Regions from separate parts of the Homo sapiens genome. Here regions 1 and 2 are each reported to be linked to region 3. The links are microRNA targets in miRTarBase. Many come from high-throughput screens and were not tested one by one. Region 3 holds a microRNA gene; each other region holds the end of a gene's coding sequence.

Evidence for each region. Region 3 holds the annotated microRNA hsa-miR-617 (AGACUUCCCAUUUGAAGGUGGC, at 6,095-6,116, opposite strand). A microRNA usually pairs through its seed, bases 2 to 8, with sites in the 3' UTR of a target mRNA and lowers its output. Matches are read on the target gene's strand: a 7mer-m8 pairs with bases 2 to 8, a 7mer-A1 pairs with bases 2 to 7 and ends in A, and an 8mer does both.
Region 1: miRTarBase lists MFSD6 as a target of hsa-miR-617. Seed matches in the 3' UTR shown: 8mer at 6,146-6,153.
Region 2: miRTarBase lists INSYN1 as a target of hsa-miR-617. Seed matches in the 3' UTR shown: 7mer-A1 at 3,312-3,318, 7mer-m8 at 7,093-7,099 and 7mer-A1 at 7,189-7,195.

Annotation. Positions count from the first base shown.
Region 1 is chr2:190,497,660-190,508,111 of GRCh38, reverse strand. It overlaps MFSD6 (major facilitator superfamily domain containing 6), which reads right to left. Exons shown (of 8, transcript NM_017694.4): 7 at 10,393-10,452; 8 at 5,798-8,097. The coding sequence ends at 7,894. It overlaps NEMP2 (nuclear envelope integral membrane protein 2), which reads left to right. Exons shown (of 9, transcript NM_001142645.2): 9 at 1-3,774. Among named protein-coding and RNA genes, the nearest start is that of NEMP2, 32 kb to the left of the region's middle.
Region 2 is chr15:73,732,688-73,743,139 of GRCh38, reverse strand. It overlaps INSYN1 (inhibitory synaptic factor 1), which reads left to right. Exons shown (of 3, transcript NM_001039614.3): 3 at 2,498-7,682. The coding sequence ends at 3,223. Among named protein-coding and RNA genes, the nearest start is that of INSYN1, 15 kb to the left of the region's middle.
Region 3 is chr12:80,826,499-80,836,950 of GRCh38, forward strand. It overlaps MIR617 (microRNA 617), which reads right to left and starts at 6,131; the gene lies at 6,035-6,131. All of the region lies in intron 4 of LIN7A (lin-7 cell polarity scaffold A), which reads right to left.

The sequences.
Region 1 (10,452 bases), not on the chromosome of region 3:
TAGCTATAGGTGTTTGTAACAATTTCTTATAAAATGATTTTTTTTCTTGATTCATGATATTAAACTCCAGATTGAAATGAGGGGCTATGAGCTTTGACCCTGAGGAAAGAAGGCCAAAACATAGATCTGAGGAAAGATTTGAACATGGCAAGACAATCTCAGGGTTAAGATGTTGCTAAGTTGATTCTGAGAATCAAAATCAGGCTTTTTTTCCTGTGATGGGATCATAAAAATAATCTTTTTATCAGGACAAAGGTTATGGGCGAAGGATAGACAGAATTTTGGCACTGCTGCTTTCCTGAGCCAAATTAAGTAGTTTTTCTAAATCATGAAAAAAGAGCATGACTATCCATCTGGAACTTCCTAGATTGATTTTCAAATGATAGTTCCTCTTTGAAGTATTTACAGGTCTGTTTTTGCCAGACATCTTTTCATACTGGGAACTTTTTTTTTTGTAATATCCACTAAAGTTAATCTGCCTTTATATAGACTTGGATTTTTAAAAAACCAAAGGATATATTTTCCATTCAGATTTATGGTAACTATTTTATGAGTAAATAGAAGTTTGAATATTTTTCTTATGGTTTAATCTGTTTTTTTAAATTATATTTATTGGTGATATAAATGTATCAGATGTATCAGTGCCTGTGCTCACCAAGTTCGTCTCCTAAGAAGCAGTTTGTGTGCTACAACGTATGCGTATGAGTAAATAACACATGAACAATCTGCTGGGGCTGCCAGGTACATCCCAGCCAGGACAGCCGCTGGGCCAGGGGGAAGAGGTACTGCTGAGGGAAGGAAGCAGCTCTTCATGGGCAGCTAGCCAGGTGTAACCATCACAGTAAAAACAGCCAAAGAGAGAAGAACAACAGCAGTCCTTGAGGATATTGTTTTCCATGTTTATTTTTAGAGGAAATCATAGGTTTGTCAGTTTCTGCTTTGTGACTACTGTGAGAAGCTAAACAATTAGAAGCATTACTTGTGATATTTTTAGTGTATTTATGTTGTTTTCATTTGATTTGGGGGTGTATTATAGTACTGATCACAATTCTAATCCCCATCAAGCAATGTACAGATAACTCTTCCAAGAAATGTTTCCCTCCTTTCTTTCCTCCCTTCCCTTCTCTTTCTCCCTCACCTCCTGTCTCCTCTCCTCCTCCCTTTTTAAAGGCCTTTGAACAGTTTAAACGACCACTCAATAAAATGGCTCTGCCCTTCACAGGTGGTTGGAAGTTGGCTTTGTGCCTCACACACCATAGGTGTATAATTATGGAGCCTAACAGATCCCTTTGTTATTTTACTGCTTATGCTTGGTGCCTACAAAAGCTTACTGTTGTTAGCAAGTTGAACTCTTTGACACCAGATGTGTGGGTGAGATATAGTGTAGGTGGCTATGCTTAAACAATCGTATCATTCAAGTGTTATTTTTAAAAGGTTTTAAAACACATTTTACATATCACAAAAAATGCTTTGTGAATTAGTTGTATGGTTTGCCAGTAATACCTAGGGCTGAATTACAGGGGAATGTCCATCTGACATGAAGGACAATATTTCAATTTATGACTTTTTAAAAAAATCTGGAAATTTCATATATTTAGATTTTAAGAGGGTTTGGAATAGATGATGGATTACATAAAAATATCTAAATATGTGGAGGAATTAAGATCCTGAAATGATGTCAACTAAAGAAATGCTCTCTTACATTATGCTATGTGTGATTGTTTCCCAGAGTGAGAGATGTACAATTTTATAAATTAGCTTTTCTTGTCCAACTGAAAGCAAGATAGACAACATAATGGATGTGGAAGTTTGAAGACACCTGCAGGAAGACAGAGAGGTACTTTTAGGTGACAACAGGAGCAAGCTGCCTTCTGAGAGAGCCTGCTGGGTGGCATGACATTGAAGAGTGAACTATTTGGGTGTGACTGTTAGCCTTATTGACTTAGAACCCTGCTTTTTGTTATTGCACCATAAGACCTGTCTCTTGTTAGTCAATTCATATAGTTGGTACAGGTAGTGATTCACAACCAAAAATATAACTAGCATAAGGATAAAAACACTTGACTTGATATGACCAGCAGATTCTCTCTCAGAAGACAGATTTACAAGGGGTCAAATTATAATAAGGTGGCTACTTGGTGAACTGAAACAAAACAAAGGGAGCTTGTTATATAATTCACATGGTTAATGTCATGAGGCCAAAGAGTTTGATGCAGATGCCACCCCCCACCCCAGTGGGGCTAGCCTTGTTAATGGGATGAGATACCAGGTCTGTTGACAAAGACCACGCCTTCCTTTATGCAGGTCCTGCCAACTTTTTCCTCTCTGTGACTGCTGTTTTTCTAATCTTCATTATTGACAAACATCCCACCCCCTCTGATGGGCATATTTTTACTCAGATGTGTTAAAATCTTTAGTCTTTCTCTGGCCTAGGAGTTGGATTATCTTTTAAAGGTAACTGTATTTTTTTTGTTATGATCCCTGAATGTGAAACCTTAATAGGTCACCAGAGATTTGAAATGAATACTATACTTATCTAATATAAATCTTGGAAGATACAGTTAGTGGGTAGCTTCTCTATTATTTAAATAATTTGAGGCATCTGTTTTTTTAGATTTGGTCGTTTTTCCAAAAAAGAAAGACTGATTGAAAAGAGAAAGGGAAAGAATACCAACATTGACTAGAGATCCATCAGGCACTATATGAGGCACCTTCGATACCTCTTAATTTGCACCTCATGACCACTCTGTGATATGTTTTGGTATTTTCATTTTACAGATGAGGAAAGACCCAGAGAAGGTAGGAGAAAGTTGCTGAAGGACACATATAGCTAAAGTGGTAGAATCAGAATTCAAGCCCCCATATGTCTGCTTCCAGGGCTCATATTCTACTTCCTTTATTTATTACCATCTTTTTAAGAAAGTGAAGGAAATGACCCCATGGATAAGGCATTCAAGAGGTGACTACATCTGCTGATGTTATACACATACCAGTCATTTGTGCCCCGCAGCAATGGACACTGTAGTCTGCGGCTCTTGTCAGTGCTTCTCAGACTGTCTGGGGTGATGGACCAGTTTCCCTCTAGTTCATCACTAGTAATACTTTTGTAAGATACACTAAATTATTAGAAAAATGAAATAATCTTTGAAAGAAAAGACATACAGAATATAAGCACGATGATCATGTCATGACAATGTCAACTTGCCATACATATTTTGAAATGTCTAATTTCTATGTTGTCACATACCAGCAGTAGTTTGACAGCACCAGTCATTGAGCACACTTTGAGTAGCACTGGTCTACATGTTATTTTTCTAAGATGCCAGTGATCTTTTCAGGAAACAAAAAAAATCCGACCTTTTTTCAAATGTAAGTTTACAATTTAAAAGAATAGCATCCTACACTGACTATTGGAGAGAGTATGGTATATAATTTGTTAAATGATTATAAAATTGTTTACTTTTGTTGACACCTTTAAGAAGAAAAAGAAAAATGAAAATTATGAAACTTATAACCTCTCTCAGCAGACTTTTGCACTTTATGGAATTGTCACCATCATCACTTTTTTCCATCCTCTTCAACTTAAGTTTTGCTTAATTTTGTCTCTTAACTAACTCATATCCCCAACCACTTAATGTTTACAATGCATGTTGGAATTGAATGCCTTACTGTACAGCTTACTAGATATAGGTAAATATGTATAGTATGGCACTGTAGATTGGGAGAATGGAATATGATTATAGATTTAAATGGCAATAAAATAATAGAACTAGACCCTGGTTGGGGAAATGAGACAGCGCTCCTCCTGCCCCGGGCTCTTTGCTGCACAACAATGGCAGTATTTATGGAGCACACACTGTATGTCAGATAACTCATTTTAAACATCAACCTGTTACATACCTACTGTAATCACTTCCGTTTTACAGAGGTGGGTCCTGAGGCCCAGAGATGTTCTATGTGTGTGTAAGTTCTCACTGGCAGAGCTGGGACTCAAATGCAAACAGTGTGACTCCAGGGCGCACACTCCTAACCCCAACATTGTAAGGTCCTTGGGTTGCCATCTAAAAACTGGGACTTTCCTGGAGCCACAGTGGGGGACAAGTGGTCCTATATTAGCTGCTTGAAGCAGATGGCAGCTGGTTGAGAGTTAGGTACACAGCTGGACTGGCACTTAGCCGGACTGGCTCACTTTCCCCCCATGTTAGACATCAGCAAGTTTCCAGTTACTCCCTTATAAGAAGCCACAGTTTGTCCTGGCATAGTGTAAATTACTTTCTGAGATCTGACAAACCACTCCCCCTTTCACCCCTTTTCTGTCCCCACCTAGGCACCAGCCTCTCTCCCAACTGCCCCATGGTTTGGAATTCTTAAGCCAGATATTCTCAAGGCTTTGCTAAACAAGCCCAGGAGTGGTTTGGGGCTTCAGAAGTAGCCTTTGTCTTGTCTCCATGCTCCAAAGGGCTGAAGAACTTCCAAATGGAAAATCACCTCTTTCTTCCCTACAGTCACTGTCAAAGCATACCTTCATTTTCATAGAATCAACATAACCTTAAGCTCTAACCTCTCACACTGAAGCTGAGGAAACAGGCCCAGAGATCTCCCGAAAGGATCTCTTCCTGTATACCCGTGCTGTCCAGTATGGTAGCCTTGAGCCACGTGTGGCTATTTAAAATTAATTAGAAACCTAATTCCCCAGAAAATTAGCCACATGTCAGTTGTTTAATAGCCACATATGGCTTATGGTTACCATCCTGGACAGTGTAAATAGAGAACTTCCCATCTTCCCAGTAAGTCCTACCGGACAGTACAGAGCTGTGGGTGTGTCTGCTTTCCCTTCCTGATTTCCATGGCCCTGGCCAGAGTCCCTACCAACCTCTGGGTTTCCTGTGCAGTTATCAGTCCAGCCAACTCACCTGCAGAGTGTAAAGGGTCTGGTGTACCTACATTTCACAAAGCATCAGGAATTTGAAGCATTTCTAGGAATCTAGGAATATCTAGAAATCCTAAATGGAAATACAACCACACACATACACATATCAGGCATGTATGGTAATGGTTCAGGCTGGGCTGCTTTATGGCTTCCTCTGCCATAACAGATGCAGGGAATGGCCTCCCTGCCTCCTGGGGTGGGGTAAGGTGCTAAGCGGACCAGGGCTTTGACATTAGGAAGATTTGAGTTTGAATCCTGGCTTTGTGACCTTGATCTCATAACTTAAACTGTTAGCTTCAGAATTCTCTTGTTTAAAATGGGGATAGTGATAGGAACACCTCCAGTTTTTGTTAAGGGCAAAATGATAATCTCATCAGCACACTACAAGCACCCAATATCCACGGATGTGGTTCCCTTTTCCTAGATTCCCTGCTGAACTCCAAATTGGCAGAGAGGAATATTGCCTAAGTAATGGTCTCAGTACCTCAGCAGTACTGGAAGGAATTGCCAATTAGAGGGAAGCTATTAGCCAGCTATCCACTTCATGTGACCCATGGCAGGATTAATAAGCCAGTAAAGCAGGGTTGCTCTTCCTGTGAATTCCTTAACACTTTTCATGAGGTTTACTGCCTGCTGGACAATGTATGTATTATAATCTATTCCTAAAACTTGAGGAATAGTTCAATAATTAGCAGTTAACCACTTTGGATCCACACAAGCTCAGCACTCGGTAATTTACTGTTTCTACAACCATAGGAGAAAGAGTAGGAAGTAAGTCATTAAGGCAGTGATTACCAGCCTGGGCTCTGTGACACCCCTGTGTGTGTTGAGGGATCTCAAGAGGGGTTACAAAATCTCAAATCAAAATGTAATTTGAATTCACTTTAATATTTTTTAAGGTAGCATATGGCACTTTGGGGACAGGAAGAAAAAGTCACAAAGTCCACAAACCCATGAAGGTGTCAGCTCACAAGGCTGGAAATGACTGCATTATCGATTCTGCTGTCACAGTAAATGTTCCATAACAAAGGCATGTTGAATTTGGTCTCATTCATTAGAGTATAGGACTTTTGTTTGGTCACATCTTTATCATTTAAGAAACATTTAAAAATGGTATTCATTTTTATTTCAACATGTCAACTGTGCATTTCCAAAACAGCAGGCTTTTCAAAGGAATAAATCAGAACTGTAAACACAAGATACAGTACAAGTTTTTGACTTCCTACAGTCAGTTTCACAAATCCACATACTGTACATTCATAGGTGAGGTTAAGCCTGTCACCCATTTCTTTATTTCTATAATTACACAAGCATAATAAATACATCTGATTTTAAAGGTCACTTAAAATGAGTCATAATTTACAGTACAGTACGTTTCAGTTCAAGTGCAAAAAATAACTATTTGCTGAATTCTATTTCTTTCAGTTATTTTATTTTTAAGCTGTGTTTTATTGTGAAGCGAGACATCCAAGTGTAGAATTTCTTATCCCAAATGCAGTATTGGGCAGAACTATGGTGTCATGGAGAAGCCCTCACTTTACAATTGATCCTGTCTAATCAGGGTCAGAGGGTAAGGTGAGTTGCTCATTTCGACTGTTCTTTTCTTTCCTCTCTCTCCTGTGCTCATCCACAGCTATTATAAATTATATAATTCACCTTTATTCAGCTAAAACAGTTTTCCCTTTTCCACACTCCCCCCAGGTTTCCTGTTAACCTCTGCTTTGATTTTTAGTGGCAAGCTTTACGTGCGATCCACCCAGCCATTGTTCTGGCTGCAGTTGTAACGTTTGCAGTTGCATACATTACATTGTCCAGTGTCTGACTGTGTCTTCATGAGAACGAATATACTGAGATTTTCTTTCTTTAGTCATTGGAAAGTATAGTTGCTACTTATTGCCATCCTTCCCATTCATGGTTTCCTATTTACCACCTTTTCCTCACCAAAAACAAAACAAAACTGACCCAATATGTAATTTCTAAAAATTGTATCCTTCCCCCAGGCACTTAAATCTTATACTGTGATTTGTAACTAGTACTGCTTATTTAAGGAACTCTTAGGAATTCAGTGATTTTTGTGTGTTTCATTCCCTCAGCTAATTAGAGCCTGAATTACTATAAGATAGTAAATAGCGAGAGAGGCTATTTACAGTATCAATATATTTAGTAAACTCTTGTCTATCAAAACACAGGATACTGAGTTGGTTGGTTGATTTGAAATAATCGCTTGTTTCTGTTTTTTTTCTCAAAGCCCATTTAAAACAAAAGGCATTTTTAAGCTCGGCTTAGCTTGCAGTAGTTAATAATAGCTTCTGTTGCTCAAAGAATTATTTCCATTATATGCCATACACATATAAAAATATATTTGCTAAAGATATGTAAAGTTTCTGATGAAACTTTTAACTTCATTTTTTAACTTTAACTTTTAACTTTATTTTTAACAAAAGCACATGTGCTACTTTTATCTGGTTACTTTTTAAATATATCTTGTAATTTTTTAAACGGTTCTCTCCAAGAAAAAAGAAAGTATAGATGAATTCTATCTCTTCCCAGTTTGTGTTAGGAACCAAATAAGAATAAATAATCAGAAGAGGGAAATTATATCCACATTCACCTCGAAACACTTTCATTCCCTCCACTTACTTAGTGTAACTGCCGGTTTCAACTCTTACTGCACTGGCAGAGAAATTCTATCATCCTTAACCTAACCAAGCAAAGAACTGAAAGTCCTCATTGAACTCCATTTCCCTGTTGTAATTCCAATGAGATTACGAAAGTTTACCTTTTCCTGCCAATATGTACTGTAGCTCCTGTGTGTGTGTTTCCATGTTAATGAGTTTAGATATTTAGAAGCATATGCAGTGCTGTGCTCCTCCAGGGGAGGCATATCCTGGCTGGGGGGCCTCACCCTGTGTCCTGGCTGAGGAGCCTGATTCCATGCAGGGTGTGAGATGAGCAGGATGCCCTCAGTGTCCTCCCGCGGCCAGCTGAGCCTGCTGCTCTTCACTCTCCTCTGTGCACGGGTCCACACTGGGGTGAGCGGGGCTGGTCTGCGTCTGAGATGCTGCTGCGTCAGGGGATGGCTGGTTTCTAGATGGGTCAGAGTGAGTCTCACATGGGACAGGCTGGGCTCTACCAGCAGGAGAATTTTCCCTATTCTCATTGGTCCCCTGGAGGTAAAAAACAGGAGATGCCCCATGATCAGTGATAGCAAATAAATCCAACTTTTTATATATGCTTTCAAGTAAGACAGGAAACATGGGGAGATCATCCGGAAGTGCCCATTTCAGGGACCAAGTAATAGAGGAATAAGGATAGAATGTCTTACCTTTCATCTCCTTTCCTATGTGCAACTGCCAGAGCCGCATGAAAAACACAAACACTATAAGCAGACGTGTCTTGTGGAAAAAGGAACATTACTACCAAAATGTCTGTTAGTACTTGGTAAACAGTTTACATCAGCAAATATTTACTGAGCCCCCCAAGCCATGTGGCAAGTCGCTGGGCAAGCACTATGGAATAACTGAAACTCAGGCCGCTTGCTAAGACCACAGAATCCAAGAGCCAGAAGACACTTTGTCTAACAGGAGGTAAATAAGGGGTTCTTATCCTTGGAGGCAGAGCTGGGAAAGAATGTCCTGTAATTAAGAGTCCTGATATATATTTGGTATTTCAAAATGTGCACCAAAAGTTAGATAAGACAGAACATCCACATAAAGAAGTGAATGTAAACAAGCACTTGTGTAACCAACTGTAAATAACCATGAGTAGAACATCACCAGCAGCAATTTCCATAAATGCCATATTGGTTGTACAAATAAAAAAAAATTTAAATGGATTCTCCCCCAAATTAGTACCCATCACTTTTTGGCTGAACACCCAAATAAAAATGTTCATTTCTGTGATTCTACAATGAAAGAAAAAGAAACTTAGTATAATGACTTCTAAGAATAACTACAGCATACCTGCCAGTTTTTATTAATCCTAACATACCAGAAACATTTTATTTATTTATTTATTATTGTTATTATAATTTTGAGACGGAGTCTCACTCTGTCGCCTAGGCCGGAGTGCAGTGGCGTGACCTTGGCTCACTGCAACCTCCTCCTGCTGGGTTCAAGCAATTCTCTGCCTCAGCCTTCCATAGTAGCTGGGATTACAGGCACCCGCCACCATGCCCAGCTAATTTTTATATTTTTAGTAGAGACGGGGTTTCACCATCTTGGCCAGGCTGGTCTTGAACTCCTGACCTCGTGATCCACCCACCTCGGCCTCCCAAAGTGCTTGGATTACAGGCATAAGCCACCATGCCCAGCCCAGAAAAAAATTTATTAATCCTAACATACCAGAAAAAAAGCGCCACATCAAAAATTTTATGTGGCTTCTGTGAAAATGAGGATGAGTACACAAAGTAATGAAAATATTGCTACTCAAGCAGCAGATATTAAAATCATCCTTTCTCCTGTTTAGTCTTCTTGCTTTAAGGTATTAAAATCCTCCATATGCATCTCCCACCACAATATCTGGTTCTTGACTGAGCAGAGTAATGATGTGAGTTTATTATCTTGATAAATTAATAAATAGGATCATGCATGGACTAGCATGCATATGGTTATCAGTAAAGAACCAGATTTGGTTAAAATTTCACAAAGATTTTATGTTAGCTTACAAAGTGAGATTAATTAACAGTTCAACAAATTTTCTGAAAGGGGAATTACTCAAATGACCCTTATTTTTAAATCTTTCCCCTTTATTTTTATGTGTCCTCTGAAGCTACTCCAGACAAAGCTGACGTGACTTATCAAATAAAAGGGAGTGATTATCATGAGATGGGGGAACTGAGCCTATTTCTTTGGCTAAATTGTTTATAGAAGTTACACTCATTTTCCAAAGTCGGGATACACCTGTACAATTATCCACACTTTTATCAACATGCTTTAACTTTACTCAGGAAAGATCACTCCTCTGGGGACAAGAAAAATCACACTTTTAGACTTATTTTTCAGGTGAGGCCACCTGCATAACCATAATTCCACTGAGTTAGGTGTCCTATCAGACCCATACAGTGGCTCAGATTAATTAATTCAACAAATATTTATTGTGGTCCTATAATATAATGCCCCCACTAGAATTTTGGAATTACAGAGACAACCATCAATACTGAAATTTAAAACAAATATACAATGAAAGAATGGATTAATTTATTTTATTTCTTTCAAGAAGTGAAAGAATCATAACCTCTGAAGTTTTCCTGAACTCCATAAGGCAGAATATTCTCTCTATGGGACCTTGTATACACCCTCTTTAACTCAGTGCTCACAGAGTACTGAAATTGTTTGCATGTCTATTTCCCCCACCAGACTTTCAATAAATCTTGTTGAATGAAAAGTGAGTAATTAAAACTGAGCCCAGTTAAGGTATCTTGAGTGACAGGTAATATTGCTAGCCCAGCAAAGGAACTGTACCTGTAAAGGCTGTATCTCAGAAGCACGGTTGTCTCTTGTGAGTTGCATCATCTCTTTAAT
Region 2 (10,452 bases), not on the chromosome of region 3:
CCAATTCCTACTGGCATTCTGCCCCGCCCTCAGGCAGCAGCAAACTCCACAGCTCTGGCTTGATCAGGGGAGTCTCATTTGAGGGCATAGCTGCCCCAGAGGTGGTGGGCCTCTCCTGAGGCCATCAATGCCTTGAATTGCTGGTCTTCACCCAGCTTAAATCTCCCAGTGCCCTAGGCTAGTGGTTTTCAAAGCAGGTCTCTGGACCAGCAGCAACAGCACCTGGAGGCACACTAGGTAGGCACCTTCTCCAGCACCACCCCAGACCAGCAGAACCAGAAACTCTGGGGAGTGAGCTGAGGGACACTCAAGTCTGAGTGTCCCTACGCTAGGCCAGTGCTCCCACCAGCCCTTGGGTGGAGCTTGGGTTGAGCAAGGGCTTCTGGGAGATAGGAGTTTCTCTGAGGTTCCTTTGGGGCAGGAAGGCATCATCCTGGGAGAAGCACAAGAAGAAGTAGCCAGATTGGAGGGTAGGGCCCTATCCCTGCCGCCTGCCCAAGCCCAGCAGTCACAGCAGCACTTCATGATGGTGTGCAGTTTTGCAGGGGGCCGCAGGGGGAGATTCTCAGCTTTCCAGGGACTAGTGCCCAAGACTCCTCATCTGTAGACACAGGAGATAATGATCTCATGGGTGGAGGTGAGCACTCGAAAGCATGGTGCATGGTAGGTGCTCAGAGATGGGAGGTGGTGTCATTTTCATCCCCAGTGCTTTGCAGAGTCCTTTTGCTGCCCTTCTCACTGTCCTTCATGAAGCTCTCATAAGGTTGGCTGGGATTGTCATACTCACTTGGTGGTCTGGGATTGTCATACCCACTTGGAGGTGAATGAGGTTGAGGTCCAGAGAGGTTCTGTGATCTTCCAAAAGACACACAGAACAATGTCAAAGCTAAGTCTGGAATCCAGATGTCCTGATTCCTCCAGCTCTTCTGGAGGCCTCAGCCAAGTGGTTTCCCCACTCCTGGCCTGGGCAATGGTTGAGGGGCCATCCCTAGGCATCAGCACCCAAGCAGCCTCTCAGAGTCATTCCTATAAACAGAGTCCTAGAATCTCAGACATGGAAGGAACCTTGGAAATAAACTAGTTCACCCACCCTCTTCGCTTACAGACTGGGCAACTGAGACCTACAGAGGAAAAATGGTTGACCAGGTCTCCTGCATCCAGCCCCTGACTCCTGATCAAGTAGTCTTCCCACTGGCCCAAGCCACTCTGGCCATCACTTTTGTCCTTGCTTTCCTCTCACTTTGGGGCACTCACTACCCCCACTCCTTGCCAAATACTAGCACATCCCTGGACAGCAGCAGCCCTTAGCAACTGTTTGTTGAATTAAGGACTTAATGAGTTAATTAATTAATTGCCTGCTCTGACCCCAGGTTGAAGGGCGCCAGAGAGGTGCTGGGGGCTGGATTCTGATCTGGATGACTCACTGTGGATCTCTTGGTCTCTGTTACTCTGACTCTTGGCCTCGCTGCTTTGTTTTCATTGTTTTTCTGTTTTGTTTTTGGTTGGAATCTTCTCTCTCCCTTCTCTTGCCCTGTCCCATCCCTGTGTCTCTGACTGGATCTCCCTCTTTCCCTCACTGTCTTCCTCCCTGATTTATGTGCTGACAGTGGCCACCCAGGCAAGGGAGTGTCCCAAGCCAGGGCCTTCTGTATAGAAGCCAAGGGCTTCACTTTATGCGAGGCAGGCCAGGGTGGAGTGACCTCCACAGCTGAGCTGCCCCCTGAGTGCATTGAACAAGCAGCTCTGGGCCCAGAATAGATGGCTTCTTTATTGCTTATCAAATAATGCTTGCTTTATTCCTTCTCTCAACAAGCCAGGATTGATCTCCACTTGTCAGTGGGCAGGGAAGGGGAAGGAATGAGGAGGCTCCGGGAGATGGAGATGGGGGTGGGGTGACCCAGCCAGTGCTGTACACCTGGTGTTCTTGCCGTGAGGGATGGTGGAGACCCAGGGGCGACAGTCACCAGTCAGCTGCAAGGACTGGTCCAGGATGCTTTAGAAAGCCCACACAGGGTCTTCCTTGTGATCACCCACATCATTTCCTCTCTGAGGGTGCATGGGCTGCTCAGCTCTTTGTGGAATGGGCTTGCTGGAGGCCCTCAGCCCCTCTGAAGTGGCCCCCTCTCAAACTAAGGAAGATTCATCCCTGATCACCAGGGCTGCCCCCAGAGCAGCTGCTGTGTTTGAGAGACAGGGGTGAGTGAATGGATGGTGTGCAGGGCTGGAAAGCAGTTCCCTCTCCCCCAGGGCACTGAACAGTGGTAAACAGACCTTTGGGAAGGGCCGGAACAAGCTCTGTCCAGCCTGATCTGATTTGGGCCCTCCACAGGGCAAACCAACCTGTGACCTCCAGGCCAGTCACCATCCTACAGGCTCTCCCCTGTCCAGTACGCTCATCAGCCAGGGGTCTACAGGGATGGGGTGGAGACACACTCACACCTGGCTGATGCAGGGACCCACCTGGCCCCTCTCATCTCCTCTCCCCTTCCCTGGTCAGGTGGTGAGCCAGATCGATAAGCTAACCTCGGACTTCGACTTTGAACTGGAGCCGGACGACTGGACCACGGCCACTGTGAGCAGCACCTCTAGCAGTGACAAGGCGGGCATGGGTGGCCCCTTTGACCTGGGCCACCTGGACTTCATGACAGCCGATATCCTCTCAGACAGCTGGGAGTTCTGCTCCTTCCTGGACGTCTCTACCCCCTCGGACTCCGTGGATGGTCCCGAGTCGACTCGGCCAGGGGCTGGCCCTGACTACCGCCTCATGAATGGTGGCACGCCCATCCCCAATGGGCCACGAGTGGAGACCCCAGACTCCTCCAGTGAGGAGGCCTTTGGTGCTGGCCCCACGGTGAAGAGCCAGCTGCCCCAGCGGACCCCAGGGACACGGGAGAGGGTGCGGTTCAGTGACAAAGTGCTCTACCATGCTCTGTGCTGTGACGATGAGGAGGGGGACGGTGAGCAGGAGGTGGAGGAGGAAGAAGTGGGCTTGCCCCCTGAGCCTGCCCATACAGAGGCCCATGCAGGCCCCCACAAGCCCTCCCCAGCCCCCTACAAGTCACGGCGCTCTCCACTGACCAGCCGCCACTCAGGCTCTACCTTGGCCCCTGAACAGACTCGAAGGGTCACGAGGAACAGCAGCACCCAGACAGTGTCAGACAAGAGCACGCAGACGGTTCTGCCCTACACAGCCACTAGACAGAAAGCCAGGGGGAAAAACTAGGGGCCGGGGAGGGGGCCGGGGGCGGTGGGCACATAGAGCTATAAATAAATATATATATATATATATATATATATATATTTAAACAAATGAAGTCATAATAAAATTTAAAAATGCTAAGGATCTGGCCCCACAGGCCCCAAAGCTTTCACAGAGCTCCTCTTAGACATGAAGATGCCCATTGGCCTCCTAGGTCCCAGGAGGTGTGGGCAGGACTGCCCTTCCTCCGTTCTCATTGCGGGGCTCCTGAAGGGGGTATCTGAAAGTATGTAAAACTGATGGGAGGTCTGATCCTCCTTTTGCTAGCCCCTGAACTCTGTGGTGGAGTCTGGCTGATGGCCAGGGCCATGTCCTAGAGGGGACTCCCCTGCAGGAGGCGGGCTCTAAAGGGAGTGGTGTCCCTTTAGGCCAGGGTTCACAGTCGGGGTGGTCTGGAGACTGCAGGACTCAGGGCCTGGGGGTGGCATCAGTCTGGCCAGGCCCTGCGTCACTTGCACCCACCATCCTTCTACTCCAAGGCAGACTTACTCGGCTATACACAGTCCTGCCTCACCCCCTTCCATCTTAGGGTTGCCTGGGACATAGGGGAATGGCAAGCTGCTCCCATGGCGCAGGCCTCCGTGCTGGGATGCTGGGCATCCACAGAGCCTGAAGGATCGCCTGGGCTGGGCAGGGGTTTGATTGGAGGGTCTGGACCACCCCCAATCCTTTCAGCTCCCATTCTCAGCCTGATTCTGAGACCAAGACCAAAACCTCAGGGCAAAGCCTCAGCCAGTCCTGGCGTGGCCCTAAGCAGACCTGAGATCTGTGCGAGGAAGTAGGCAGCCACTTCCATGGGGCTAAAAATTAGGGCCGTAGACAGGCTCCTGGCCACCTTCACCAGGTGGGCAGCCTTGGAAAGGAGCCCAGTGGTCCCCACTCCGTCCCGATGTCTCCACACCCAGCCCCTGAGCCCATCTCAGCAGGTCCTGAACAAAGATGAGGTTACAGCCTAGAGGTACCAGGGCTTCATCTGGGGCATGGCCAGCACAGGGACAGCAGCTGAATATCCTTGGGATAATAATGACAATTATATTGCTCACATTTATTGAGCAGGTCTCTATGCTACTTCTATGCCGAATACTTTTTATAGCAGCATCTCATTTAATCACCACAATAACCTGATGAGACAGGAAGTATTATTACCCCATTTTTCTTTTTCTTTCTTTCTTTTTTTATTTTTATTTTTTTTATTTTTGAGATGGAGTCTCGCTCTGTCACCCAGGCTGGAGTGCAGTGGGGCGATCTTGGCTCACTGCAACCTCCACCTGCCAGGTTCAAGCAATTCTCCCACTTCAGCCTCCAGAGCAACTGGGACTACAGGCATGCGTCACCACGCCTAGCTAATTTTTGTATTTTTAGTAGAGACGGGGTTTCACCATGTTGGGCAGGCTGGTCTGAACTCCTGACCTCAAGTGATTCGTCAGCCTCAGCCTCCCAAAGTCCCGGGATTACAGGCGTGAGCCACTGTGCCCCCACCTATCCCCATTTTTCAAATGAGATGACTGAGGTTCAAAGTAGTTCAGTACCTGCCCCAAAGCCACAAAGCCTGTGCTACTCTGCCCCCAAGAATTAGTGATTTCCAGGCTGTGCCTGGCTCTGCTAGCTAGCAGCTGTGTGACCTTGGCAAGTCCGTTTGCCTCTCTGAGCCTATCTACCTCCTCTGTATAATGGGTCTGGTAGTCTTCACCTACCTCACCAGCTGCTGTGGAGCTCCGACGAGATGGTGACTGTGAAAGCACTTGACAAACTGAAGGCACTGGACATGCCTTGTGGTCAGTGTGGCCTCAACCCAGATGTCCAGTGATTTCCAGGGCACAGGGGCTTTGAGTGGGATGGCCAAAGAAGACACCTCCATCCAACTGGGAGCCACCCCTGGGTCACAAACACTCCATTGCTTGGTCCCTCGCAGTAGCTCGAGGTCAGAAGTTGACTGCAGCTTGATTCACAGCCCCTCGCTCAGAGCAGGGAGGTGGGACTGGCAGCACAGCAAAGACATCGCTCCTTGGGGGCCTCCCTGTTGCATATTTCAATTAAGGCAGGTTTACAGCCCCCCAGCGTCTGTCCGGAGGGGGCCTGAGCAGCAGGCCTGGCAGCACCCACTGCTCCTGCCTGAAGAGGTGCTATCCAGCCCCGGCTGTGGACATACAGTGAGATTGTACAGGCCGGTCTGGAGCAGCTGCAGGGGATATGATCTGGATAAGACTGAGCAGACCTAGGAGGCTCTGCAATGTAGAGCTTATTCCTCAAGCTCATGGTGAGATTGGAGCCCTAAAGAGTTAGCCAGGGTGCAGCCACCAGTGTGGAAATCCAGGGATGGCGCAGGCCATGGCCAGCTCTTCCCAGCTCACGTCTGAGAACCAAGGGTCTGAGCCCCTCTATCAGCCCCAGGAAATCCTCAGCCATTTGGTGCTGATCAGCGATAGGGCTCTGGTTCACAGGATGAGTGCCAGGGGCTCCTCTGGGGAGAGGGGCCAGCTGCATTCCGCCCCACCCTGAGAGTGAGAAGGGGGCAGTCCCCGACCAGGAATGGGCCTACCTGGTGCTAAGAATGGACATAACAGTTCTCCCTCTGAGGCTTGCATTTCATCTGTCATGGCAAGAGCACTTTCAGGCTCACAGTTTCTCATCTTTTCAACAGTCAGGGAAAAGAAACCTATGGAATAGTTCGCATTTCACAGAGGAAGAAACTGAGGGCCAGAGCTAGGGGTCTCTGACACAGCCATGGGATCCTGCACCCCACACTGGCTCTATGTGACTCTGTAGTAGTGGCTAATGTCCATCAGTCGCCCCCTGCTCCCCTGCCTGGCCATTTGCCCCCAAATAGGGCAGTGGTGGGAGTATATCCTGGAGGAGGGGGAAGTGGGATATAGGTAGTACTTGGCTGACTTCACAATTTTGCTACACCCAGTCTGGACCTCCTGACAGTGGAGTGGGATCCCTGTGGCTTCCTTTTTCTTGTTTTTGTTTTGTTTTGTTTTTTTTTAGATGGAGTCTCCCTCTATCATCCAGGCTGGAGTGCAATGGTGCGATTTCAGCTCACTGCAACTTCCACCTCCCAGGTTCAAACAATTCTCCTGTCTCAGCCACCTGAGTAGCTTGGACTACAGGCACCCGCCACCACCCCAGCTACTAAGTTTTGTATTTTTAGTAGAGATGGGGTTTCACCACATGGCCAGGATGGTCTTGATCTCTTGACTTTGTGATCTGCCCACCTTGGCCTCGCAAAGCACTGGGATTACAGGCGTGGGCCACTACGCCTGGCCAATTTTTTTTTGTTTTGTTTTTTTGAGATGGAGTCTTGCTCCATCTCCCAGGCTGGAGAGCAATGGCGTGATCTCAGCTCACTGCAACCTCTGCCTCCTGGGTTCAAGCGATTCTCCTGCCTCAGCCTCCCAAGTAGCTGGGATTACAGGCACCCACCATCATGCCCGGGTTAATTTTTGTATTTTCTTAGAGATGGAGTTTCACTATGTTGGCCAGCCTCATCTTTGAACTCCTGACCTCCGATGATCCACCTGCCTTGGCCTCCCAAAGTGATGGGATTACAGGCGTGAGCCACCGCACCTGGCCCCAGTGGCTTCTTCAGACTTGAAACACAAAATGTGGCCAGCTAGGGATAGAGAGAATTCTGACTTTCAACACTGCTGAGTCATGGCATGGGCTGCTTCTGGGTAGTGAGCTCCCTGTCCTTGGGGTAGACACAGCCATCCCTTGGGTCCTTCCTCCAGACCTTCCAGGTACAGCCCTTTGCTGCTCTTCCCTGCCTCCAAACCTTTGCCAGTTTTTGAGTTTCTTTACCCAGGATGTTCCATCAGATCTCTCTGCTTCCGGGAAGTCCTATTCCACTGACCACCTACTGTGTGCACAGGCTTGTGCTGAGTGGTGCTGTGGAGGGGCAGAAGGGAGCTGGAACCTGGTGATGGAGAGAAGTCATAGCATGATGAATAACTCATGTCCACTGGGCACGTGCTAGGCACTGGGCATTGTTCTAAGTGTATGTCTTATCTCATTTACTCCTCACAGCACGTATGAGATAAGCAATCTTACTTATGTCTAAGTAGCTTCCAGATGAGGAAACTGAGGCTCTGGGAAGTGAAGTAACTTGCCTAAGGAAACACAGGATGGGCTATGGAACCAGGATTCAACCACAAACACAGTGACTTAGCATCATCTACTGCAAACATCCACTGCAGTTAAAATGCCTGGAGTGGGTGGCCTGGTCACTGGAGGTGAGGGTCGGGGCTGGGTCGTCTGAGAGCCAGGCGGGTCTTCGGGGTGAGGGGAGTGTTGGGGTGAGGAAACATGTGAACATGCCTCAGTCTTTGGAGAACTTAGTTACTGTTAACCTGAATGTCACCACCCCTGACTCGGAGACTGGCACCAAATGGATTATGGGTTCAATAAATGTTTGTTGAATGAATAAACGAGCCCCATTTGCAGAAGGGTATCCACTATGCATTCATTCAATCAGCTTTTATTGCAGACCTCCTGTGTACCAGGTGTCATGGTGCTTGCACACATAGGTATACACAACTCCTCTGTGAGGGTCTGGTCTGGTGTGCCTTGGGGCTGGGGAAAGTCAAAACTGAAGGGTGTGGGGTTTCAGCACTAAGGGAGCCATAGCTGCTGCTGGGTCTAGCCTGGGATGCCAGGGTAAGGAACCAGAAGTGGGAGGCAAGTCAGCTTGGTGAGGAGACCACTCTGGGAGATGTCCTGGGAAGGGTGGGGGTCCCCAACCTGACACTCCATTAATAGGGTGGGCACATTGCCATGTCTTTGGTGTCTAAGAATGAGGAGGCATCACTGTCTGTATTTTATAGATGAGGGACAGATGATGTCATCCACAGAAGTGGTCTAATGGGATCAAGGGACAGAAAGGAGGGTAAACTATTCAGAGACCCCAGCACCATCCCCTGTCCTTAATGAGGACTTGTCAACAAGAAGGGAAAGTGGGTGTAGTGGGGCTGGGAATTCCAGAGGCAACAAGACCAGCCCTCCACCCTGTCCACTCCTGACTTTCTGTTTCTCTGTTCCGGCGCTTCCCACACCCACCCATCTCCCATTCCACAGCTGAGACTTGTGTAAGAAAACTGATGTTTATTGACAACCTAGTATATATATGTCAGGTACCGTGCTACATCTTTTAACAAATACTAAATGACAGATTTAGTTGTACCTAGAACAGAATATGTTGCTCAATAATTATTTGTTGAGTAAATGAATTAACCACAATTTTTATTTTACAGGTCAGGGGAGGCAACTGATGAACAAATAAGGAATTCATTCTAAGTTACACAGCCAGAAATTGGCTGCTCTGGGGACTGACATTGCCATTATTATTTACACTATATATAAGTGCTACAATGTATAGCATACTATGTGATTGTTAGGCACTTTACATAGTGCTCACCAGGGTTTGGGCCCTGACTTCAACTCCGCTTTAGGCCAGACTTTCAGAACCACCCCCTAGTTTCTGGTGGGTCTGGGGCACTGACTGGGTGACTAGCAGAAAAACAGCTCCAAGTCCAAAGCATCCTTCCCCCTTTCCATTTCTCTGGCAGAGCCAAGACTAGCCTGCCCTAAGCCCAGTAAATATCACTGCCCTTTCTGGTCTAGGCTTACCTGACAATGGGTGGGGCTGGAGTATCTAGAAAAGGCTTCTGGGGGCCGGGTACAGTGGCTCACGCCTGTAATCCCACCACTTTGGGAGGCTGAGGCGGGTGGATCATGAGGTCAAGAGATGGAGACCATCCTGGCCAACATGGTGAAACCCTGTCTCTACTAAAAATACAAAAAATTAGCCGGGTATTGTGGCGGGAGCCTGTAGTCCCAGCTACTCAGGAGGCAGAGGCAGGAAAATCACTTGAACCCAGGAGGTGGAGGTTGCAGTGAGCTGAGATTGCACCACTGCACTCCAGCCTGGCGACAGAGCAAAACTCCATTTAAAAAAAAAAAAAAAAAAAAGGAAAAGGCTTCTGGAAGGAGGGAGGATTTCACATGGAATTTCACTTGAAATGGAATAGAGCTGGGTCACCTAGAAGTGGGAATGAAGGACATGAGATACTGGTGGAACTTCACAAAGGTGGCTGGGGGAACCATATAGGAGATGGTGGAGAGAGCCCTTGTTAAAGTAGAGGTGCACATTGGTGCAAAATGGAAAAGATAAGAGCACCTTCTGCAAGGGACTTTTGAGTCCCCAGAGCCCCACTCAGAGCCACTCCATCCTCTTTAACTGTGGGGGAGGAAGCCAGGGTATCCTGTCTAGTCTGATACTGGGAGAATAGCTTTATGATAGCTCAGCAACAGTTATCCAGTAGACCATCATGATAGGGACCCACTCTTATGAATAGATAAGAACAGCACACAATTAGCACATTGGTAAGTAACATAGATATGCTAAGCCCTTGAAGATAATTGGATCTTGCAAGCGGGTTAAACGTCCCTCCTGCAATGCATTTGCAGTGCCCTTTTCTTTCTCCCACAGGGCAGAGGGGTGGGATGCTGGAGCTGCACCTTCCTGTAACATGTTACACGGGAGCTAGCTGGAATTCTGATGCAACCTGACTCCTCCATTGGCCTGCCCCGAACCCCTACCAGAGGGGCGAGCACAGCTGCCATCACCACCTGCCCACCCCCACCTTACCTGTACCAGCCATGCCAGACTAGGGGACCAAGGGGTCTTGGAGGGTGACCTCAGGCTGACGCTATCCAGGGCTCAGACACTGTGCTGATCAGACATGACTCCCTGCCAGGAACACTCAAGCTTACACACCTGCCTGAGGCTTTTGGCTCTCAGTTCCTGTTCAGGCTGCTCCATTCCTATTATGCTGGGATGTGTAAAGTCAGGCACTTCCCACTGTGGACAACAAATCTGATGGTGCAGACCCACCCTGGTGTCCTCTCCTCCCCCACTATCTTAGAAGAGCCACAGAAACCCAGTCTCCAGGCATCACCCGACCTGTCCTCCACCCCCAAGAAAGCAGGATGGGGTGGGGGTTGCAGGTGTCACTGCAAGGCACTGCCTGTGGAGCAGCTGTGGAAAGATCCCGAGGGGCCCTGATCTTTGTGGGGTTCCTTGACACACGATGGCCAGTGGTGGGGCCTTCCCAGGAGACCCCTGTAAAATGGAGAATTTTTCCTTAGCTAAATGGCTGAGTGTGAGCAGCTTCCCAAAGGAGGTAGTGCTGGCA
Region 3 (10,452 bases):
CTTCTACCTATTCCAGCCAGAGTTACTTTACTCCTTTTTTTTTAGATGGAGTCTTTCTCTGTGGCTCAGCCTAGAGTGCGGTGGCATGGTCTTGGCTCACTGCAACTTTCCCCTCCTGAGTTCAAGCTATTCTCCTGCCTCCGCCTCCCGAGTAGCTGGGACTATAGGCATGTGCCACCATGCCTGGCTAATTTTTGTATTTTTAGTAGAGATGGGATTTCACCGTGTTGGCCAGGTTGGTCTCGAGCTCCTGACCTCAAGTGATCCTACTGTCTCAGTCTCCCAAAGTGCTGGGATTACAGGCGTGAGCCACCACCCCTGGCTGAGTTGCTTGGTTTTTGCATGCCCTTGCTTAAAATCTATTGATGAGTAGAAAGAACACAACTATGATAGGCACTGTCCTTGAGGGCAGGGACCTTGCTACATTGATGGTTTATCCCTGATACCTAGCACAGTGCACAGTACTCATCCAGTGTTTGTTTAGCTAATCTGAAGAGGGCTGACTTTAAAGCTTAGGTCAAAGATTACTGCTGTAAGAAGGTTATTTCATTTCCCTGAGCCTCTCAGTTCCCATATATGCAAAATGGCATTAATAACATCTCCTTCAGGGCTGGCACAGTGGCTCAGGTCTGTAATCCCAGCACTTTGAGAGGCCAAGGTGAGCAGATCACGAGGTCAGGAGATTGAGACCATCCTGGCTAACACGGTGAAACCCCATCTCTACTAAAAATACAAAAAATTAGCTGGGCGTGGTGGTGGGTGCCTGTAGTCCCAGCTACTCGGGAGGCTGAGGCAGGAGAATGGCGTGAACCCGGGAGGCGGAGCTTGCAGTGAGCTGAGATCCTGCCACTGCACTCCACCCTGGGTGACAGAGTGAGACTCTGTCACAAACAAACAAACAAACAAACAAAACATTTCCTTCACAGAAGTCATTTAGGTTTATATGGACTACCCGTGTAAAGTGCCAAGTACTAAACCTGGCTCACAGAATGTACCCAATAAATGCATTACCCCATACATATTTTTCAATTTTCTAGAAATGAAAATGAAAACATCCTGTATCATGCAAAGCACTTCCCATGTACAGGCAGGTCCAATTATATTTCCTAATATTAATCTTCAACATAGAAGCAACACTATGCTTTTGATTTCAGCATGTGTTTTCATGTTTCTATAATCTCTCAGTTTTATTCCCTCAGTGTAGAATGTCCTTCCTCCACTCTGTTTTAATAACCCCCCACCCATCATTCAAAGCCCATCCCAAACAGTACTTATTCTCTATTATGTCACTTTCTTGCTCAAAATAAATAGCAAACACTTTATGATGGTTTACAAGGACCTTCACTCTTCACTCCCAGCTGGCCTCTATAACCTTATGTCTAATACTCTCCCCATCATTCATATTCAAATCATTCTGGACGTTTTTTTTGTTCTTGCTTATACCTAGTTCATTCCTGCCAGAATTTTGTATGACTAGCTTCTTCACATAAAGTTCTCAGCTACGAGATGCTCAACTCTACTATCAGTTAGGGAGATGCAGATTAAATCTAAAATGAGATCAAAATCATTCACATGCTTAAAAAAAGAATGTATCCCCAAGGATTTGGTGAAATTTATATCTTCATAAAACATAGAAGTATAAATTGATATAGGCTTTTTGAGTCAATTTGGCAATATCTATTAAAATAAAGTATATCCATATCTTCCTATCCTGGCTTGCATATATTAGGATCTACCTGAGAAAAATAGTTACTCATATACATAAAGATTTTCATTCAAGCAGTACTCAAAATAGTGAAACAAAATTAAACAAAAAACCATTTGGTTAACAAACTAAATGTCCATCAACAGGGGAATAGTTAAATGCACCATATATAGAATATTATATAGAAGATTTAAAAAGGTCTATGTACAGATGAGGCAAAATCTCCAAGACATTATTAACCAAGAAAGCAAGTCATAGATAATACGTATATGTAAAAATAGCAGTGCATTTAAGAAAATTACATATAATAATAATAATAGTAGCTTATATTCATTGAGTATTTACTATCAGGTACTGTTTCAAGGGCTTTAAATGTAGCAAAATAGTGACTTCTCATAACAACACTGCAAGTTATGTAATGTTATCATCCCAATTTCATATATGAGGAAACTGAGACACAGAAAGGTTAAGTAAGTTTCCATGGCCACACCGTTAATGGGTAACAAATCATTGTCTGGAGGCTGACCTCTTAATCACAGCCCTGCATTGTCTCATATGTTTGTATTTAAAAATAAATAAATAAGTAAATAAATGTGGGGTGTGTGTGTGTGTGGTGTATGTGTGTGCTTGAATACAAAGAGAAACGTTCAGATGCATGCTCACTACAATGGTGTTTCTACACGTGGAGAGAGAGAGGGGCTGGAACGGATTGAGGAAAACAGTTAAAGGGACTCTTTAAAAAATCTGATTTTAGTCTTTCCACACTGAATTATTTAAAAATTTGCTAAGAATGCATTTACATATTTATTGTATATTTTTAAATACAATAGCCCAGTATCATCCCATAAGGATCATGAGAGGAAAGGTCATTCTAGAACAAACCAAAGAAGGTGGGACAAAGCATAATTTTGTTTAAATAGTACTTTCAGGCAGAGCTTTCAAGTAGTTTGGGCAAAATAAGTCCCCCAAAACAAAAGCAAAAATCCCTACAACTATAATTCTATAATTGCCTGGGTAACTCAGGTGAAATGAAGGGATTTTAGCAAAGTTACCTCAAAATTTACAGATGTAGAAGTATAGTCTGTGGGAGCTTCAAAACCTCAGTCACAATGTAATGCCAATGATATTCTGTTTGAACTATCATGACTGAATGGTTTTTCTCCCGACATCGTTAATTTGCTGAAACCCAAGTTTTCCTTTCCTATATTTCCTCTCAGTTGTTTATTTGTCGGGGCCAGCATATCACTTATACGGCATGGCAGATCATTCATGGTTCAATATATAGGCTATAAATCCATGTTTTCAAGGAATAATGTTCAATGGAAAAATCATAAGGAAGGATTATGAAATACTTCATGTTTAAAATTTTGCTTTTCATCTAATGGCTCCTGAGATTAAAAACAAACAAACAAACTTGCAGTGATCTCAATCTTGATAGATGTGAGATTCCACAGAGAGTAATCAGTTGACCTAGGAATTTTTCTGAAAATGAAATGAGTTGGCTTTGTCTTTCTTCTTTGGTACAATTACTGTTGATCTTATCCCCCTTCCCCAAATAATAATGTGTCATAACAAAGAAACATCAATATTCTCTACATAATAGATCATAATGAGATAGATACTAATGAGATCTGTGTTTCTCTCACTAAATATTAACTTACATCCACATCTGGTGGCCCTGCCTTTAATTCTGGCCACTTCTAAACCACTCTTCACATTGCAATCATAGTAATCATTCCAAAATGCACTCTCGTGCTTAAAATAATTACATGTGCCTGTATTGCAGATACAGGCTGAAGTCTTTCAGCCTAGTGTACCTCACCCTTTGTGATCTGGCCCCTGTGTATATTTTCACCCTCATTTGCTAATCCATGAAGGTCCAAACAGGAGAACATGCAATTTTTTCTTGTCTCTGGGCCCTTCCTTGTGATGTCTCTTTCACCTTCCTCACTGCCTCCGTTCACCTGCTTGCTTAAATCAATGGCTTGCTGCCTTGATTATAAACTAGCAATGATTATAAGCACTAACATTTATTTAGTACTTACTACATGTTCAGGAACTGTGTTATGCCATTTAAACACTAAAATAGAAAAACTAAGTAGCTTCTTATATTATCATCTTTTAGCAATGAGAAAACTAAGGTTCAGATAAGTTAGCAAATTATTCACCAAACTCCACCAATGACATTGAATTTGTGCCCTATAGGGATTTACTGAGAACTAAAGGGCCCAGTGCATTTAGAGTGCTCTGCAGACGCTTGGCTTAGAAGCCCTGGAAGGAAGTATTTTCCATTACTTTTGTTACCAATGTTGTTACTACATTTGGGGGTGCTTGCTTTATTTCTAAACTTAATGTCTGGGGATTTAAAAATTGCCATTTTAACACAATGGCACATATAATTGAGTAGAAGATATATTTTTTAAAAGTTGATTTTTTTTAATTAGAAAAAAACTAAAAATTGAAAATGAAAGTGAATTACTAACACTGAACTCATTTCCTTCTCCCCTCTACTCCAATCCACTCCAGTTTCACTGGTTTTTCGTTGCTTCTCTCGAATGCCAGTGCCCTTCAAACCTTAAAGACTTGGTGTTGACACTTTCCTCTGATGGTCACAGGAGAATGATCTGAATGTTCTTCCCTAGGTGTGGCTCACTCCCTTATCTCCTTTGACCTCCACCTTGAATATCACCCCTTAACTGAGGCTACTCTGACCGGCACCACACTCTCCCTGCCATAGCATCCCCTAGCCTCCTTACGCTGTACTGATTAATTTTCTTAGCACTTGCCATCTCTAACACTATATGGATTTCCTTATTTATTTTGTTTATTGCTTATCTGCCATACTAGAATGTGAACTCCACAAAGGTAAGGACTTTTTTGTCTCTTTTTTTTCATTAAAGAATCCTGACTGCTTCAAATTGTACAATGTAGATGCCTAATAAATGCTTATTGAGTGACTGAGTGAATGACTATTGAAACTGGCCAAGCAATGTTATATAGCCTTGTTTGGCTACACAGGTGCTTTAGATACAAGTTCATGTATATTTTGTCGATTTATTGCCCTATCTAACATCTCTCAAACTAAGGCTTTGGTGGAGTCACTGAGCAGTTAATATATTACTGAAAGCAGATGAATGTGCTTGGATCTAGGCAGAGTAACAAAACAAAGACAGCTAAAGTTAAAAGTCTGACCCAAGGTCTCACATTCCTATAAATAATTGATAATGCATCAGGGGAATTTTAATGAATATATTTGATTTGTTTTATTTACAAAATAGACATACTAAAAGTTGCACATAATTATTAATCCTTTTCTAGAAGAGTAAACAAATTTATTAGAGACCAAGCAGACTGAAAGTGATTGGGCTTCTTTGTGAAACACTGCCAATATATGCAAAATTATATCCAATACAACTGAAGGAAAATATATTTGAAGCAATTACAAATCCTGTCCCATAACATGATGTGTGGTGTGATAACCAACATCATACAACTTTGCATTATCCCTCCTGCCAATTTCATCTAATAAAACACGACTCATGTGAAATGGTGTGTGCCCTAGGTTCCTGTGGTAATTAGCTGTGTCTAAATTGCTATAACATGGGCAATGATATTTAAAGTTGCTCTTACATTGCCTAAGAGTGCATAGCAAAATAATAATTATCATGTAATTTAGATTTTCAAAATGTAAACAGATCATGGCCACAAAAATAAGGGGAATTTCAGGATGAGTGGCTGTGCACTGTCTAGCCTGGTGGCCAGTCTCATTTCAGATCCATTGTAAAACTGAGAGACAGACAGCATTCAGGTACCCTGCAGGTTTTGGTTACAGACTTTACTGAGTGGTCAAATAGATATTGTGCCTTCTAGATTTAGGCAAAAAAGAAGAGTGGTGAGGCTTTGGCATATTTCTGTTCATGACATATTGGCACAATATTTCTACAAATCACTCAAAGCTAAAGCTAAGGCAATTAGGAGTAGTGCATCCATTTCTACTTATGAAAAACTTAACTTGGTGTTTCTAGGATAATTAGATCAAAGTAAGCTCCCTTAGGGTATGATCTACGTTTTCTTTAAACTGTTCCTTTCCCAGTGCCAGACATGGTACCATGGTTAATAAATCTTATTAGCAGTCTGACTGAAGATTTTAAAGTGATATTCTTACAATAACGTTTGCCTGTAGAGACAGATTCAATACCAAATTTAATAATGGCAAGCTGTCAATTGCTTTGCCTTTGTCATCCATGGTAATTGGGATCAACTCTGGTGCTCCTCCACACAGAACATTCAATTGAGATCAAGCCTTGGATGAAATCTCTTTTCCAGAATGCTCCTCATTTATTGAATCAGAAGGAGCCTGGACTTACCATTTGAAGGTGGTAGGAAATGGCCACCTTCAAATGGGAAGTCTAGGCTCCTTATGATGGCTTATGGTAGCTTCCGTGACATGGCTCCAGGCCATCCCTTCAACTCTACTCTTTAGCTACAAACATGTTGATGCTATGATTTGGTAGAAGTCCATTCTATTCATATTTATGGCATAGTGTACAATGTGTGCATTTTTCAGATTTTAATATTGTAGCTACTATATGGTTTGGAACTGTTTTCATGAAAATGAACTAATTTAGTTTAAGATAGTGATTCTCAACCAAGGATGATTTTGCTTGTTAGGGGACAGTTCAAAAGGTCTGGGGACATTTTTTGTTGTGGTGACTGGATGGGGAGGGTGTTACTGGCCAGGATAAACATTCTACAATGCACAGAATGGCCTCCCCCAGAAAGAATTATCCCATTCAAAATATCAGCAATTTCAAGGGTGAGAAATCCTGGTTGACAAATGTAATTGAGTGAAAAGTTTACATAATATAATTTTTAAGTGTTCTACTTCGAAATGCTGTCAGTTTGATAGAGCTCAGTTAATTAAATTTACATCTTGGAAAAGGCAAAACTAAATTAAAACCTATGCCCTTGTTTATGTTCATATGGCTGAGCCATAGACAACACAACCTCCAAGTACTCAGCTGCTCACTCTCACCTGAACCATCTTTTCTGCTGTGTCAACAAGAGGCAAGATCCTTGTCAGAAACCCAAGAGTTCTTGGTAACTCCCTATTCTTCACCTTGCATATCCAGTCAATCACCAGTTCTTGTTTATAGTCCCGTTACATCCAAAGTCATTTTCAAATCTTTTCCTTTCTCTCCAAATTGCCCCTCTTCCAGTTAAGACCTCCACCATGTCCCTCCAGAACTTCTAAGAGTGTCCTGGTTGATCTTCCACCTCCGGCTTTTCCTCCATGCCTTCACACACCCTATGCCCACATGTTGGCAATTGCCAGAATAACCTATAAAAATTCATGTCATTTTGGCAATTTCCTACCACTTTCAAATGTTAAGTCCGGGCTCCTTGTGATGGCTTATGGTGTCTTCCATGATGTGGCTCAAGCCCATCCCTTCAACCCTACTCTTTAGCTACAAACATGTTGTTTCTTATATGTTTCTGTAGATGTTGTCCCTCTGTCTAGAATGCCCTCCATCAACCTATTCATTCTAACATTCCATAGATAACTACTATTAATCCTTTAAAATGCTTCTTATTATATATACCATTTCCTCTACAAAGGCAGAAGGTGTTGTTTGCTTGTTTTTAAATTCTGAATTTTCGCTACACTGTCCACAGTACCAAATGGCAATAACCGGCTAGAATTGTAATAGGGCATTTCTCCTCTAGATTGCCATCTTTCCCTCTTGATTATCTCTGCTCACTTATCTAATCTCCTTCTGGACCCTAAAATAGTCAAATTTAACCACTCCTACTTCCTGGATAGCCTTTTGCAAAACCAAATCTAGTACAATGTCATGTTCCCTTGACTTTCAGAGGTAGAAGCTCAGAGACTGCCCAGAATCCTCAACTCTTCTGATGTCACATTTTACTCGATTTTTAAGTATGTAAGGACTACCACATATATAGTGATTAGTTCAGAATGAAAAATCTATGTTGAAATGGTAGTGCTGGGTGATAAGATAGGTTCAGGCTGATGCTAGATCAAATCTTGTATACTACATATACAGATTTTGACTTCAGGATCTAAAGTCTTATGCTTTGGTTCTTATTCAAATTTATATTCTTAAAGCTTAAGATATGCTATATATTTACACAGTTGGTGATAATAGGCACCTCTGTAAATAGAAAACATGACTTCTCTTGAGAAGTGATTTGGTGTCACTGAAGGGCAAGGTCAATAATTTACAATTCAGAGTAAGGTTGGCTGTGATAAAATTAGCAACTAATGATTTTGTATCTATGAGAGAAGAGAAAGAAACCCAAGTAGGAAAGGCCTATGATCAAATGTGATTCATTTGCAAATTTATTGAAACAGCCCATACCTCCTGGCTGAACTTAGAAAGATGTAGTTCTAATACCACAATTGCTGATACTCATTTCCCATATCTGAGACTCAGCAACCAACATTTGAGTTAAAGTTTGGTTATCTCACATGAACCTGTGAGCAATCACATGTGGCTTGTGACATGTCATCTGATTGCCATATGTATCAGTGTCTTCTGTTTTTGAGAATATAATTAAAAACAGAACAAGATATAAATCCATTATGGAAAATTATATAAACCCTTAGACTTACACTTGGCTTGCATTTCACTAGGTATACTCATGTAGCTGTGGCATATTAACATTCCAACCTTGCTTTAGGCTAGTGCCAACAGTCTGTAGACCAGCATAAATAAGTTAGAAGAATGTTCCTCCCAAGTTAGGATTAAATCGAATCATTGGCTTTTCACTAATGTTTAAAGCAATCACTGGTAATTGGGCTTGGTGAGTTCCACAAAATATAAATGATGCTTTTTTGGACCAGCACAGGATTTCAAGACAAATATTCTATTCATTTGAGATAAACCACACATTTCTCAGCTAGAACAGAAGAAGGACCATTACTTGGTTTACATATTCTGTTTTTGTAAATTAAGGAAAAATGTTGCAATAGGAAACATGGAGAGATGCATCTGGAAGTTTGGTGAAAGGCTGTTTAATAATAATATACAGCAACAATGCTGTGTAATTGTGGAAGCATAAGTCTTATCTTTTAATGCTGTATTTATCATTTCTCTTTTTTATCCTAATTACTATTAGGAAAGGTAGACAGGACAGGTGTTGTTACATCAGTCCTGCAGATATAAAGACACCAAAAATTCCAATGACTTGCCCATAATCAACCCACCAATGACAAGGATCCAATTTCCTCTGAAATTAGAGTATTTAATGGGGGACTTTTATTGTCTCTTGAAGATAAACAAAAAGCAGAGGAGATGACTTAAACTGGGCGGAGAGTCTAACTCTATAGGGAGATAAAATTATAAGAAAGAAAAGACTATTATCTGATTTAAAAGAAAAAATTTATAGTTACTGGGTATTTAAAAGGTATCCAGCGTAATGCCAGACACTCTTACATACTTTCTCTTATTTAATCTTTGGATTAAACCTGTGAGAAAGATATTGCTATTTTTGCTTTACGTATGACAAAATAGAGTCTCAAAGAGTAAATAAACGTATTATGGTTAGAATAACCTTAACTCCTGAGAAACCATAAGAACTTGAATTTGAATGAGTCCCTTTTGAAATGTTGAAAATATCAATTCACAATAAAGTAAAAGTTTGTAATTTTCATTAAATATGATGACAGAAAAAAAGGGAAAATTGCTCTTAAGTTGTTATCATATGCAATATCCTAGTCAAGTGATTTAAGGATATAGAAAGAAAATTTCAATACAAAAAATAATAATAAGCTAACAGAAAAAAAAAGTAGAATACATTTCATTTCATAATGAACAGCCTCAGGATGTATTAGAGACTCTTGGCATATCATCAGATTTCAGAATTGATTTCAGATTCCTAATGCACTTAGAGTAAAATGAAAACTTTTGGGTATCAACCTTAAAACTCCATTGGTTGGCTCCCAATCAGTTCTTCAGCCTCATCTTATCCCACTATGTATACTTTAGTCACTTTGTTCTTTCAGCTGCTCCTACATGGCAAATCATGGACTTCCTTATCTCAAGACCTTCACACAAGCTCTTTCTTATGATAACAGACTCTTCTCCTTAATCTCAGTTTAAATGTCACCCTTCAAAGAGGCCATTTCTAACACTATTAAAACTAGCTCCTGGCATGGTGGCTCAACATCTGTAATCCCAGCACTTTGGAAGGCCAAGGCTGGTGGATTGCTCGAGCTCAGGAGTTTGAGACCAGTTTGGGCAACATAGTGAAAGCCTGTTTCTATCAAAAATACAAAAACTAGCCGGCATGGTGGCATGTGCCTGTGGTCCCAGCCACTCAGGAGGCTGAGGTGGGAGGATTGCTTAGTCTGGGAGGCAGAGTTTGCAGTGAGCCAAGATCACGCCACTGCACTCCAGCCTGGGCCACAGAATGAGACCCTGTCTCAAAAAATAAATAAATAAATATGTATATATATATATTTTAAAAGTAGCTTCTCTTGTTCCATTACATGGCTCCTTGTTTTCTTCTTTCCCCTCTGTAACACTTATCACAGTGTTTAATTATGAGGCCATGTTATATTCTGAAGTATTAATTCGTGTTCTTTGTGAATTTTCCCTCCCATTCTGCTTCCTTCAGCCCACACCTTAGGAGTAAAAAAGGACTGAAAAATATCTGAAGGTCTTTGCTGTGCAGCAGAATGTTTTGGCTGCATGTTTTCACGTACATTTTTTTTTTTTTTC